Homo sapiens: one gene and its partners. The protein of the gene in region 1 interacts with the protein of each later gene in a biochemical or structural test. Each region holds a gene or a part of one and is shown on either strand. Other genes may lie near its edges. The genes, in order: PDGFRB, PTPN22 and RPS6KB2.

Region 1 (3,647 bases):
GCCTAGAATCCATCTCCTGAGTTCCAGGCTCCCTCTCCCACTCCTCCCATGGGTGGGTGGACAGTGCAGGAAGGGAGAGGGAACGGGGGCAGGGAGGGGAAGGAGCAGGGACATGGCGAGGGGCGTGCTCATCACCATTGATCTGTAGCTGGAAGGAGAGCTGGACCTCAGCATCCTCATGGAAGGCCCGCATGGTGTAGTGGCCAGCCTCTGCCACCTTCACGCGAACCAGTGTCAGCTCTGACACATACCTGGGGAGCAGGAAAGGCAGCTGTCAGAGTCGGAAGGACTCTTACAGTTCTCCCCACCCTCCTGGTATAAAGAGGAACAAGGCCCAGGGAGGGGAAGGGCTTGCCAAGGTCATCTCGGCATTGGTAGCAGAGCCGGGACTCAAACCAGGTCTCGTAAATCCTCACCCACAGGCAGTTCCCCTAGGCCAAGAGGGAGGGTTGAGATGAACTGTGGGTGGGGGTGGGGAGCATTGAAGGAAAGTCCTATTTCTCTCCCCTTCAGAAAGGTGGACACTGCTCCATCCTAACCTACCACAGTCTCTGTCAGCCAGCAAATCTCCAGCCTCAGGGATACCACAGGCCATGAGTGGCCTGCCTGGCACCCTCTTCCCCAGTCATCTGCCCGTTTACTTCTTGGCTGCTACTGCTGGCCCCACCCATCACAAGGACAACTAAACATCTGGGTGATCATCTGACCGGCGACTGTTTCCTCCACTAGACTAGAAACTCTAGGAGGGATGAACTGTCAGCTCTGGTCGCTGCAGCATCCCCAGCACCTGGCACCTAATATGCTCTCAGAAAGCTGGGCCTAGGTTTGTGGCTGAAAGCCGAGGGCTGCCTGGCGGCTGCAAAGAAAAATAACTTCAAGAATGGGATGGGAGAGCGAGCTGCTCACCGGGTCTCCGACACGTTGCGCGTGGACAGGGCGATTTCGCCAGCGCTGGAGTCGCCCAGGGTGCGGTTGTCTTTGAACCACAGGACAGTGGGCGGTGGGTAGGCCTCGAACACTACCTGCAGTGTCCGGCTCCGATGCAGCTCAGCAAATTGTAGTGTGCCCACCTCTCCCAGGAGCCGCACGTAGCCGCTCTCTGCAAGGGGTGACCGTCAGGGGCGGGGCCCTGGGGGCAGGGCACCAACTGAATCCCAAAGGAGGCCAGCCTGTGGGGTGGGGCTTCAGGCCTGGGGACCGTGCCAGCCATGGAGTTTCCGGAGCTGAGGTTGAAATTGGGCTGGGGACAGGGCCTGGAGAAGGGGCCGAATTTGGGGCTAATATGGATGCTGGGGCCAGCTCCCAGGTTGGGAACAGAGTTGTACTAACAGTTCTCTGTTCTGGGTCAGTACTGTGGCTGATGCTGGGACTAGTGATAAGGTTGAATTTGGGGATGGGGCTTCCCGGACCTGGGATGGCAGTTGGGCTTGGAAGTCAGGTTGGGGCTGGGGCTCTGGCTAGTCAGAAAGTCTAGGTTGAGATAGGGTTGGATTTGGGGCTGACACTACATTTTGGTTTGGGGTTTATCCTGGAATTGGGGTTTTGGTTGGCACAGAGGCTAGCTAGGGCTGCACTGGAGTGTGGCTGACTATACCCCGGGGCTGTGACAGGCACTGGGTCCAGCTCAGCCCTGATCACTGTATCAAAAATGCAACTCTCACCATCACTCTGCACCCAGCAAAGTGGGTGAGGGTGGGGAGCGTTGAAGGAATTGGGGATTGGGCTGAGCCCAAGGCACACACCAACCACGGTGATGTTGATGGCCTTTTCATCCTGATGGTCATTCACACTCTCCGTCACATTGCAGGTGTAGGTCCCCGAGTCTTCTAACTCGGCACTGGGGATGTGCAGGATGGAGCGGATGTGGTAAGGCATATCCAAGAGGAAGTCAGTCACCGGCTCCACCAGCCGCCCACTCTGCAGCAACAGGTTGGGCAGGCCCCCCAAATCAGGAGGGGCCGGGGAGAAATCAGCCTGCAAGCCAGATATCCACCCGTTCCTGGCCCCTCCTCCGACCCCTGCCTGGCCCCACATTACTTCTTTGCGGGGGTATGTCCACTCGAAGTTGACCACCTCATTCCCGATCACAATGCACATGAGGGTGATGTTCTCACCCTGGCGGACCACAGTCTGCACTGCGTTCACAGAGACGTTGATGGATGACACTGGTAGAGAGAGATTGGCTTAGGTCTGGGGAAGTCACCACCAGCCACTAGCACTTCAGCTTGGGGATAGGGTAGGGGGCTAGAGAGGGAAAGGATGACTGATGTAGAAGATTCATTCATTCAACAAATATTTACTGAATACCTACTACATGCCAAGTACTATTCTGGACACTGGAGCAACAGTAGTGAACAAAGTGGACAAAATCTCTGTTCTTATGGAGCTGACGTTCTAGAAGGGATAACAGTCTGGAAATCAAAGTACCCTCTGGAGATCTATGTACAGGAGAAATGTATTGAGCACATAACATGTGCCAGGTACTCTCCATCTTTTATTTAATCTTCACAATTGATCCTATGAGGTAGGCAGCCATTGTTATCCCCACGTTACAAGAGGGGAAGCAGGCTCAGAGAGATTATGTGCTTTGTGTAAAGTCACTCAGACAGGAAATAGCAAAGCTGGGATTTCGACCCAGCTGGCTCTGAAGCTTGTGCCCTCACCGACCATGTTGCACAGGCCAGCTCTGCCACTATCGAATTCTGCGACAGGGGACAAGCTCCATCCTCTCTCTGCGCCTGAGTTTCCCTCTTCTGTAACATGGGGAAAACACTATCTTCCTTCGAAGGCTGTGGTGAGAATCCACTGGGAAGTGGAGTCCCACACTTTGTAAACTGTAAAGGGCTATTCCTCTGTGGAGGGTTATACTTGCCTCTGCTGAGCATCAGGCCAGAAAGGGGGCTCACCCTGGAGTCTGTAGACATAGTAGGCATCAGAATCCACCTCCCTGTCCCCAATGGTGGTTTTGCAGATGTAGCTTCTGTCCTCAAAGATACCAGAAAAGCCACGTTGGTGATCATAGGGGACAGGCAGTGCAACGTCCCCTTTCTTCTCGTGCAGTGTCACCACCAGCTGTGGGTCTGTTACTCGGCATGGAATGGTGATCTCAGTTATTTCCGTGAGAAAGATGAATAGTTCCTCGGCATCATTAGGGAGGAAGCCCACGGTGGGATCTGCCAGGAGTGGAGCCGTGAATAAATCAGGGGAACTGGGTTTCTGGCCATCCCCTGAATTGCTGTGTGGCAAGTCATTTGCCATCTCTGGCCCTCTGTCTCCCCGTTACAGAATAGGGATGCTCCCAGAAGAGCATAAATCAAATGTTAGAGCTGGTCCCTTCCAGCTCTAATGTTTGATATTGACAGTGCCAGGGTAAGAAAGAAGGCAAGTCACAAGTTGAAATGCAGCTGATATCTGGAGCTTGGAGAATGGGGAAGAAGGGATGTGGGGTCAAGAGGGAGCAGATTGGAAGCAGCTGAGAATATAGAGTTCTTGGGAGGCAGGAATAGGGTGACTGGCAGGGAGCAGGCAGATCACCCAGACCAAGGAGTGGGTGCGAACACACTCCCCGACTGAGCCAGGCTGGTTCCATGATTGTCTGCTTTTCTAGGATGGCTGCATTTCACAATAAACTAAAGCACTCTCTGGAC
Region 2 (3,647 bases), on another chromosome or scaffold:
AGTGCTGGGATTATAGGCATGAGCCACCGCGCCCGGCAGGCTTCATTTTTCTCTTCCACCTCTCTTCCTGCCAGACTCCCGGGCTCCAATATCCCAAGAAAGAACAAATTAGGGCAAAATTAGGGCAGAAAAAGTAATAAACTACACCAGAAAAGGAGGAACCCTGAAAGTAGAAAGCAAAAGGGTATAAAAGAGGAAGCAGGGTCATGGGGATGGGTTTAAGTTTGTGAAGAAAAGATATGAGATCTAAAGGGTGAAGGTATTTCTTTGCCAACTACAAGGTAGGGGTGTGAGTTCCCTAGAGGAAGTACCATCAAGAGAAGTCAGGGGAATAGTTGCCAAGAGGATAAAGTGAAGAGACTGGGTGCGGTGGCTCACACCTGTAATCCCAGCACTTTGGGATGCCGAGGCAGGCAGATCACTAGGTCAGGAGTTCGAGACCAGCCTGGCCAGCATAGTGAAACCCCGTCTCTACCAAAAATACAAAAAAAATTAGCTGGGCATGGTGGCAGACCCCTGTAATCCCAGCTATTCAGGAGGCTAAGGCAAGGAGAATCGCTTGAACCTGGAAGGCAGAGATTGCAGTAAGCTGAGATCACACCACTGCACTCCAGCCTGGGTGACAGTGTGAGACTCCGCCTCAAAAAAAATAAAAATAAAAATAAAAAAGAGAATAAAGTGAAGAGAGAGCTCAACATCCCTCGTGGGCCCTGAAATAGGGTGGAATGTGTGAGAAACCAGATTCTGTGTGTGCTTGATAAGCTAATAGTAAGTTCATTTGGTTTGTAGATGATACTACCCCTTTCGTTTCAAGAAAGGAGAGGAGAATGGGGATCCTGGCCAGTATAACAAGGAGTATTAGATTCTAGAAATTCGGATTGAGTCATTTGCATGTTATTCTCACAGACTAGTAAATAAAATAAAGTCACTCCCAAAAAAGAACAGAAAGTAAAAGAAAGCACAAGACCACGATATCTTTGCCTTGAAGGACTACATTACTGGATAGAAGACGTAGCATTTTAGATACATTTTAGGGAGAGGAAAATTAAACTTGGCCCTCCTGTGCTAGGTGGGAGAACACAAAGTTTGGCTGTCTCGAGAACTCTGCAAGGTAGTTCCTCAGTGCCTTGCAAATATAGGTCAGTATTATACCAAGCCTCCATCAGGACAGAAGAAGTACAAGTGGTAAGGAATGGCATTAGGAGCTCAGGCTTCTAAATCCAGTAATCAGGAGAACTACCAGTAGGAATGGAGGACAAGACTGAATTGTACGAGCGTGCAATGCAATCATCTTCAACAAGACTGACAAACTTATCGAGGTTAGTTTCCAGTGCAATAGTGGGGCAAATGGGTAGGTGGGTAGGCAATAGCTAAATTGGGGTGAGTAAACCAAGAGGTTCAACTTTAGATACATAAAATGTGAGAAAATGGCAAGAAATGTGTGTGTTGTTGGTTGGTTGGTTGGTTTTTGAGACAGAATCTTGCCTTGTCACCCAGCAGAGAGTTCAGTGGCGCAATCTTGGCTCACTGCAACCTCTGCCTCCCAGGTTCAAGTGATCCTCCCACCTCAGCCTCCTGAGTAGCTGGGATTACAGGCACCTGCCACCATGCCCAGCTAACTTTTGTATTTTTATTAGAGACAGGGTTTTACCACGTTGGCCAGGCTGGTCTTGAACTCTTGACCTCAAGTGATCCGCCTGCCTCAGCCTCCCAAAGTGTGGGGATTACAGGCGTGAGCCGCTGCGCTCAGCCAAGAAATGTGTTTTAAGTGTCCTGTGAGTAAATGAAAATGTAGGACTAGATGGTCCCTAGTGAGAGGCTGGAGATGGTGTTAGAGAAATCAGCTTCAGAGGTGATGTGATACATTTATTCTGGTGGTGGCATTTTTAAAAATTGCACCTTAATGTGCACAAAGGTCAAGAAATGCTGATAAATATGTTCAAGTGATAGGCTGATTCACAGGAATGAGTAGTGTCAATTCATAGATGTTTGTGCACTTGCTCTGTAGGAAGTACCTTGTTGATAACTGTTTGGTTAGTATCATTACTATAATATACACAGAACCAGGATGTATCTATGTCTCCTTTATAGAACCAAGATGTAGCCAGATCTTTGATATGTCTCTGGTCTTCTAATGAATCTCCAGAAGTTGCAATAGTACCAGTCTGATTTCTAGTATAGTTTAAACTGTTAGCACCTAAACCTGGCCTTCAGAACTAGGTATCTTCTTTCTGTTAGGATTCAATGAATCCTTTATATTTAATAAATATATATATATATATATATATTTTTTTTTGACATGGGATCTCACTCTGTCATCCAGGCTAGAGTGCAGTGGCGCGATCTCGGCTCACTGCAACTTTGCCTGCAATCCCAGCTACTCGGGAGGCTGAGATAGGAGAGTCACTTGCGGTGAGCCAAGATCGCACCATTGCACTCTGGTCTGGGCAAAAAGAGCAAAACTCCATCTCAAAACAGACAAACAAACAAACAAACAAAAAACTGAAATTGTGGTAAGTGCTATGAAAAATAACAAATGGTGCTAATAAGAACTTACAATAGAAGATTTGATCTATTCAAAGAGGTCCAGAAAGCTTTCTCTGGCCAGGTGTGGTGGCTCATGGTTGTAATCTCAGCACTTTGGGAGGCTGAGGCTGGAGGATCACTTGAGTCCAGGAAGTCAAGTCTGCAGTGAGCTATGATCAAGCCACGGCACTCCAGCCTGGGTGACAGAGCAAGACCCTGTCTCCAGAAAAAAAAAAAAAGAAAGAAAAGAAGAAAAGAAAAGAAAGCTTTCTTTGAAGAATTGACCACCAAATTGAGATCTAAAGAATTATTAGTCGGGCATGGTGGCTCACACCTGTAATCTCAACACTTTGGGAGGCTGAGATGGGAACCCTAGAGGTTGAGGCTGCAGTAAGCCATGATCACACTACTGCACTCCAGCCTAGATGACCAAGTGAGGCCCTGTCTCAAAAAAAAAAAAAAAAAAAGGCCAGGCATGGTGGCTCACGCCTATAATCACTTTGGGAGGCCAAGGTGGGCAGATCACGAGGTCGGGAGATCGAGAGACCATCCTGGCTAACACAGTGAAACCTTGTCTCTACTAAAAACACAAAAAATTAGCCGGGCATGGTGACACACACCTGTAGTCCCAGCTATTCAGGAGGCTGAGGCAGGAGAATAACTTGAACCCAGGAGGCAGAGGTTGCAGTGAGCAGAGATCGTGCCACTGCACTCCAGCCTGGGTGACAGAGCGAGACTCCGTCTCAAAAAAAAAAAAAAAAAATTACCAAATGTTATCTAGGTAAAGAGGAGTGTGAGGAATGTTCAAGGCGGAGGTAACAACATGTGTGCAAGGCCCTATGGCAGAGGAAGCATGGCAAGGACAAGAAAATGAGCATGCTATAAGAAGCTGGAGAGACACCATGTAGGACATTGATAGCCATTTTAAAAGGTTCTTTGGGAGGTAAATGAAGTTCTATTTGTGAAGCACTTTTAGCACAGAGTCTGGAACACAGTTCTATGGATTAGCTGTTGTTACTGTGGAAAGTAGATGAACAGAAAACGTATATAAGGAAATGCAGATTTAAAATAATCATGGAACATTTTAAGGCTCAGAAATCCAATGAATGAAATTAACATAA
Region 3 (4,156 bases), on another chromosome or scaffold:
CCCAGCACTCTAGGAGGCCAAGGCAGGCGGATTACCTGAGGTCAGGAATTTGAGACCAGCCTGGCCAACATGGTGAAACCCCATCTCTACTAAAAATAGAAAAATTAGCTGGGTATGATGGTACACGCCTGTAATCCCAGCTCAGGAGGCTGAGGCAGGAGAATCGCTTGAACCCAGGGGCAGAGGTTGCAGTGAGCTGAGATCACGCCACTGCACTCCAGCCTGGGTGACAGAGCGAGACACTATCTCAAAAAAAAAAAAAAAAAAAAAATGGGGGCAACCAGAGCTCCTCAGACCATCCATCTGTTTGTTAACTGCTGCATCCTCTGTCACTGCATTGTATTTCTCCATAATTCTGCTGCTGTCAGCCACCATCATTTTCAGGGATGGGTTTATCCTCTAACACAGGGTTTCTCAACCTCGGCACTACTGACACCTGGGACCAGGTCATTCTTTGTTGTGGGAGGCTGCCCTGCGCATCGTGGGATGTTCAGCAGCATCCCTGGTCTCCACCCACCGGGTGCCAGTAACACTCCCCTCTTGCCTTGACAATCAAAAATGTGTCCATGCCAGGCGCAGTGGATCACACCTGTAATCCCAGCACTTTGGGAGGTTGAGGCAGGCGAATCACCTGAGGTCAGGAGTTCGAGACCAGCCTGACCAACATGGTGAAACCCTGCCTCCACTAAAAAGTACAAAAACTAGGCCAGGCACGGTGGTTCATGGCTGTAATCCCAGCACTTTGGGAGGCCAAGGTGAGCGGATAGCCTGAGGTCAGGAGTTCAAGACCAGCCTGACCAACATGACAAAAACCCATCTCTACTAAAAATACAAAAAAAAAAAATTAGCCAGGAGTGGTGGTTCACGCCTGTAATCCCAGCTACTCAGGAGGCTGAGGCAGGAGAATCACTTCACCCTGGGAGGTGGAGGTTGCCAGTGAGCCGAGATCGCACCACTGCACTCCAGCCTGAGTGACAGAGTGAGACTCCGTCTCAAAATAAGTAGGTAAACAAATAGAAATACAAAGATTAGCCAGGTGTGGTGGCACAAGCCTGTAGTCCCAACTACTCAGGAGGCTGAGGTAAGAGAATTACCTGAACCCGGGAGGCAGAGGTTGCAGTGAGCAGAGAGTGCACTACTGCACTCCAGTCTGGGGAACAAAGCAAGACTCCATCCAAAAAAAAAAAAAAGCTAGGGACGGTGGCTCATGCCTGTAATCCCAGCTCCCAGCACGTTGGAGGCCAAGGCGGGCAGATCACCTGAGATTAGGAGTTAGAGACCAGCCAGGCGAAACCCCACCTCTACAAAAAAGTACAAAAATTAGCTGGGTGTGGTGGCAAGCGCCTGTAATCCCAGCTACTCCGGAGTCTAAGGCACGAGAATCGCTTGAACCTGGGAGACAGAGGTGGCAGTGAGCCAAAATCGCGTCACTGCACTCCAGCCTGGGTGACAGAGCAAGACTCCGTCTTAAAAAAAAATAAAATAAAATAGTGTCCAGACACTGTTGTCAAATGTCTGCTGGGAGTCAAAATTGCCCCCATTGAGAATTACTGCAAGACAATACACATCACAACAGACAATAAACCAGCAAACGCCAAAGTCAGGGATCCTCCTCCACTGTGTTCCCTGCTGTCTTCCCAAAGCCTGGTACAGCATGTTGGGAATGGCAGCCACACAGTATTCGTTGGCTGAACGAGTGACTCACCTTCCTTAGGACTTTCATGGCATATATTTTGCCCAAGTTGGTGCCTTGCACCTTTCGCACCTGGAACACCTGTAGGGCAGGGGAGACAGGATCAACTTCCCTCTCCACATCCTATCTTCAAGAAGCCCCACCCTGAAGCTCTGGCTTTGGGATCAGGAGGCCTAGGCCCTGCCAAGGGTGGGGCAGTGAAGATTTCAAGTCCGATTGGAGAGGATTTGGCCTTCCCTCCTTTATGTTTCTGGCTCTGAATCCCATTAGAGGCCCTGCTGATTCACAAGTCTAATTTGTTTTGAGAACCCTTTGCTGCCTCCAGATGGAGGCTGTGAGGCCAGGAGGAGGGTGCGCCCGCCCCTACCTTGCCATAGCCCCCCTTGCCCAGCACACGCAGCAGCTCAAAGCAGTGGGGCCCGATGCGCTCTGGGCCAACGTTCACGCTGGTCTCAGTCAGCTCCACCTCTTCATAGTGTCCCACAGGCCTACGGACACAAGGAGTTAATGAGGACAAGGCTCCAGTGCTCCCCAGTTCCCCTTCCCCACTCCATTCCCCCCTCCCCCAACACGACCCTCACTCACTCTAGGCCAGCTGCCCTCAACTCGGCAAGGGGACATGCGTCCTGTGAGAAACCGAGGGGTAAGAGCCAAGGAAGGTGCCAGGATACCTCCCCGCTCCCGTTCAGGTTGGACTGCGTGGCCCAGGAGAGAAGGGTGTCAGGGATGGCAGCTAGTAGGGGATGGGTAAGAATTGGGAAGAAACCGAAGGCAGGAAAGGGAGAATCGGGAGAAAAGGCTGGGGTTCTGGAAGAGAGGTCGGGGTGAGGGTGGGATCAGAACTTAATAGAGACCGGGATCTGAGAAGGATCTGGGTCTGCAAAGAGTCGGAGCCCGCTCTGGGCGTGCGGAGCCGCCGCTCCGGCCTCGGCTGGGTGACAGGATCGGCTCCAGGATCCAGTCGCGCCAGGGCAGGGCACTCACCGCGGGGCTGAGCTCTGGCTCGCCCTCGCCCTCGCTGCCTTCCTCCGTCTCCAAATCCAAATCAAACACGGCCGCCATGGCGGCGCCGGCCCCGCGGGCCCGTCGGCCCGTACCTGGCCGCGCACTGACTGACAGTCCCGGACCTAAACATCATCTCTCCGCGACGGCAGCTGCGCGCGCCGGTGACGCAAGGGATCTTACTCCCCCTCCGGAAAATCGCTTAGCCTGGTGGGGAACAAAGATGGCTTCCGTCGCAAGGCCTCTCGGGAATTGTAGTCCTAGAGTGGCGAGGCGCCTAGCCTTCAGCCTGCAGAATCCTTTCCGCAGGACCCTCGGTCTTCCCAGCAAGGCTTTCTGGGAGCCCGTTTTGGTTCTACGGTGTTTTGAGTTTGGATGGAGCAGGGTCGGAAGTGTATGCAGGTGTGAATGTAAATGCAATCCCCAGCCCTGTTGGAGACGGGTACTGCCAGGCCGGCTGCGTGATGAAAGGCAGGTCGCGTTGCTTTCGGTTCACTCCAGAAAGGGAGGCGGCTGCATCAGGGTCTCCTCAAAGTGCCTCTGGCTCGAGGACCCTGCAAATCGGAGCATTTACTGAGTGGCCAGCTCACTGCCAGGCTATGTTGCCAGGTTCCCGCCTTAAATAGGGTTTTGGGGGTCAGTGATAGACCTGTAAATATGGGATTTTGTTGGCGTTTACTCCCTTCTTAATTTAAGCACATTTAGGCACCTGGTACAGAATAGACACTTCAAAAAACGTTGTTGAGGCCGGACACGATGCCTCACGCCTGTAATCGTAGCACTTTGGGAAGCCAAGTTGGGAGGATCACTTGAGGCCAGGAGTTCAAGGTTACAGTGAGCTATGATGGTGCCACTGCACTCCAGGCTGGGTGACACAGTGAGATCCTGTCTCAAAAAAACAAACAGGCCGGAGGCGGTGGCTCACACCTGTAATCTCAACACTTTCGGAGGCCGAGGTGGGTGGATCACTTGAGGTCAGAAGTTGGAGACCAGCCTGGCCAACATGATGAAACTCTGCCTCTACTATAAATACAAAAAATTAGACGGGTGTGGTGGCGCGCACCTGTACTCCCAGATACTCGGGAGGTTGAGGCAGGAGAATCGCTTGAACTCGGGCGATAGAGGTTGCAGTGAGCCAAGATTGCACCACTGCGCTCCAGGCTGGGCGGCAGAGTGAGACCAAGTCTCAAACAGATAAAACCCGAAAACCTGGCTGGTCACGGTGGCTCACACCTGTAATCCCAGCACTTTGGGAGGCCGAGCCAGGCGGATCACCTGAGGTCGGGAGTTCAGGACCAGCCTGACCAACATGGAGAAACCCCGTCTCTACTAAAAACACAAAATTAGCTGGGCATGGTGGTGCATGCTTGTAATCCCAGCTACTCGGGAAGGCTGAGGCAGGCGAATCACTTGAACCTGGGAAGCGGAGGTTGCGGTGAGCCAAGATCATGCCATTGTACT

The links.
Region 2: of the proteins of PDGFRB (region 1) and PTPN22, one has a biochemical effect on the other in vitro, tested with the Homo sapiens proteins (one large-scale study listed by IntAct).
Region 3: of the proteins of PDGFRB (region 1) and RPS6KB2, one has a biochemical effect on the other in vitro, tested with the Homo sapiens proteins (one study listed by BioGRID).

The regions. Positions count from the first base shown.
Region 1 is NC_000005.10:150,131,844-150,135,490, forward strand, and holds part of PDGFRB (platelet-derived growth factor receptor beta isoform 1 precursor), read right to left. Parts: intron 3,174-3,647; coding exon 2,907-3,173; coding exon of another isoform or gene 2,873-2,906; intron 2,166-2,872; coding exon 2,038-2,165; intron 1,918-2,037; coding exon 1,743-1,917; intron 1,100-1,742; coding exon 907-1,099; intron 252-906; coding exon 136-251; intron 1-135. UniProt on the Homo sapiens protein: Tyrosine-protein kinase that acts as a cell-surface receptor for homodimeric PDGFB and PDGFD and for heterodimers formed by PDGFA and PDGFB, and plays an essential role in the regulation of embryonic development, cell proliferation, survival, differentiation, chemotaxis and migration.
Region 2 is NC_000001.11:113,861,641-113,865,287, forward strand, and holds part of PTPN22 (tyrosine-protein phosphatase non-receptor type 22), read right to left. Parts: intron 2,638-3,647; exon of another isoform or gene 2,558-2,637; intron 1-2,557. UniProt on the Homo sapiens protein: Acts as a negative regulator of T-cell receptor (TCR) signaling by direct dephosphorylation of the Src family kinases LCK and FYN, ITAMs of the TCRz/CD3 complex, as well as ZAP70, VAV, VCP and other key signaling molecules.
Region 3 is NC_000011.10:67,427,145-67,431,300, reverse strand, and holds the start of RPS6KB2 (ribosomal protein S6 kinase beta-2), read right to left. Parts: upstream 2,808-4,156; 5' UTR 2,756-2,807; coding exon 2,678-2,755; intron 2,320-2,677; coding exon 2,279-2,319; intron 2,182-2,278; coding exon 2,061-2,181; intron 1,775-2,060; coding exon 1,706-1,774; intron 1-1,705. UniProt on the Homo sapiens protein: Phosphorylates specifically ribosomal protein S6. Seems to act downstream of mTOR signaling in response to growth factors and nutrients to promote cell proliferation, cell growth and cell cycle progression in an alternative pathway regulated by MEAK7.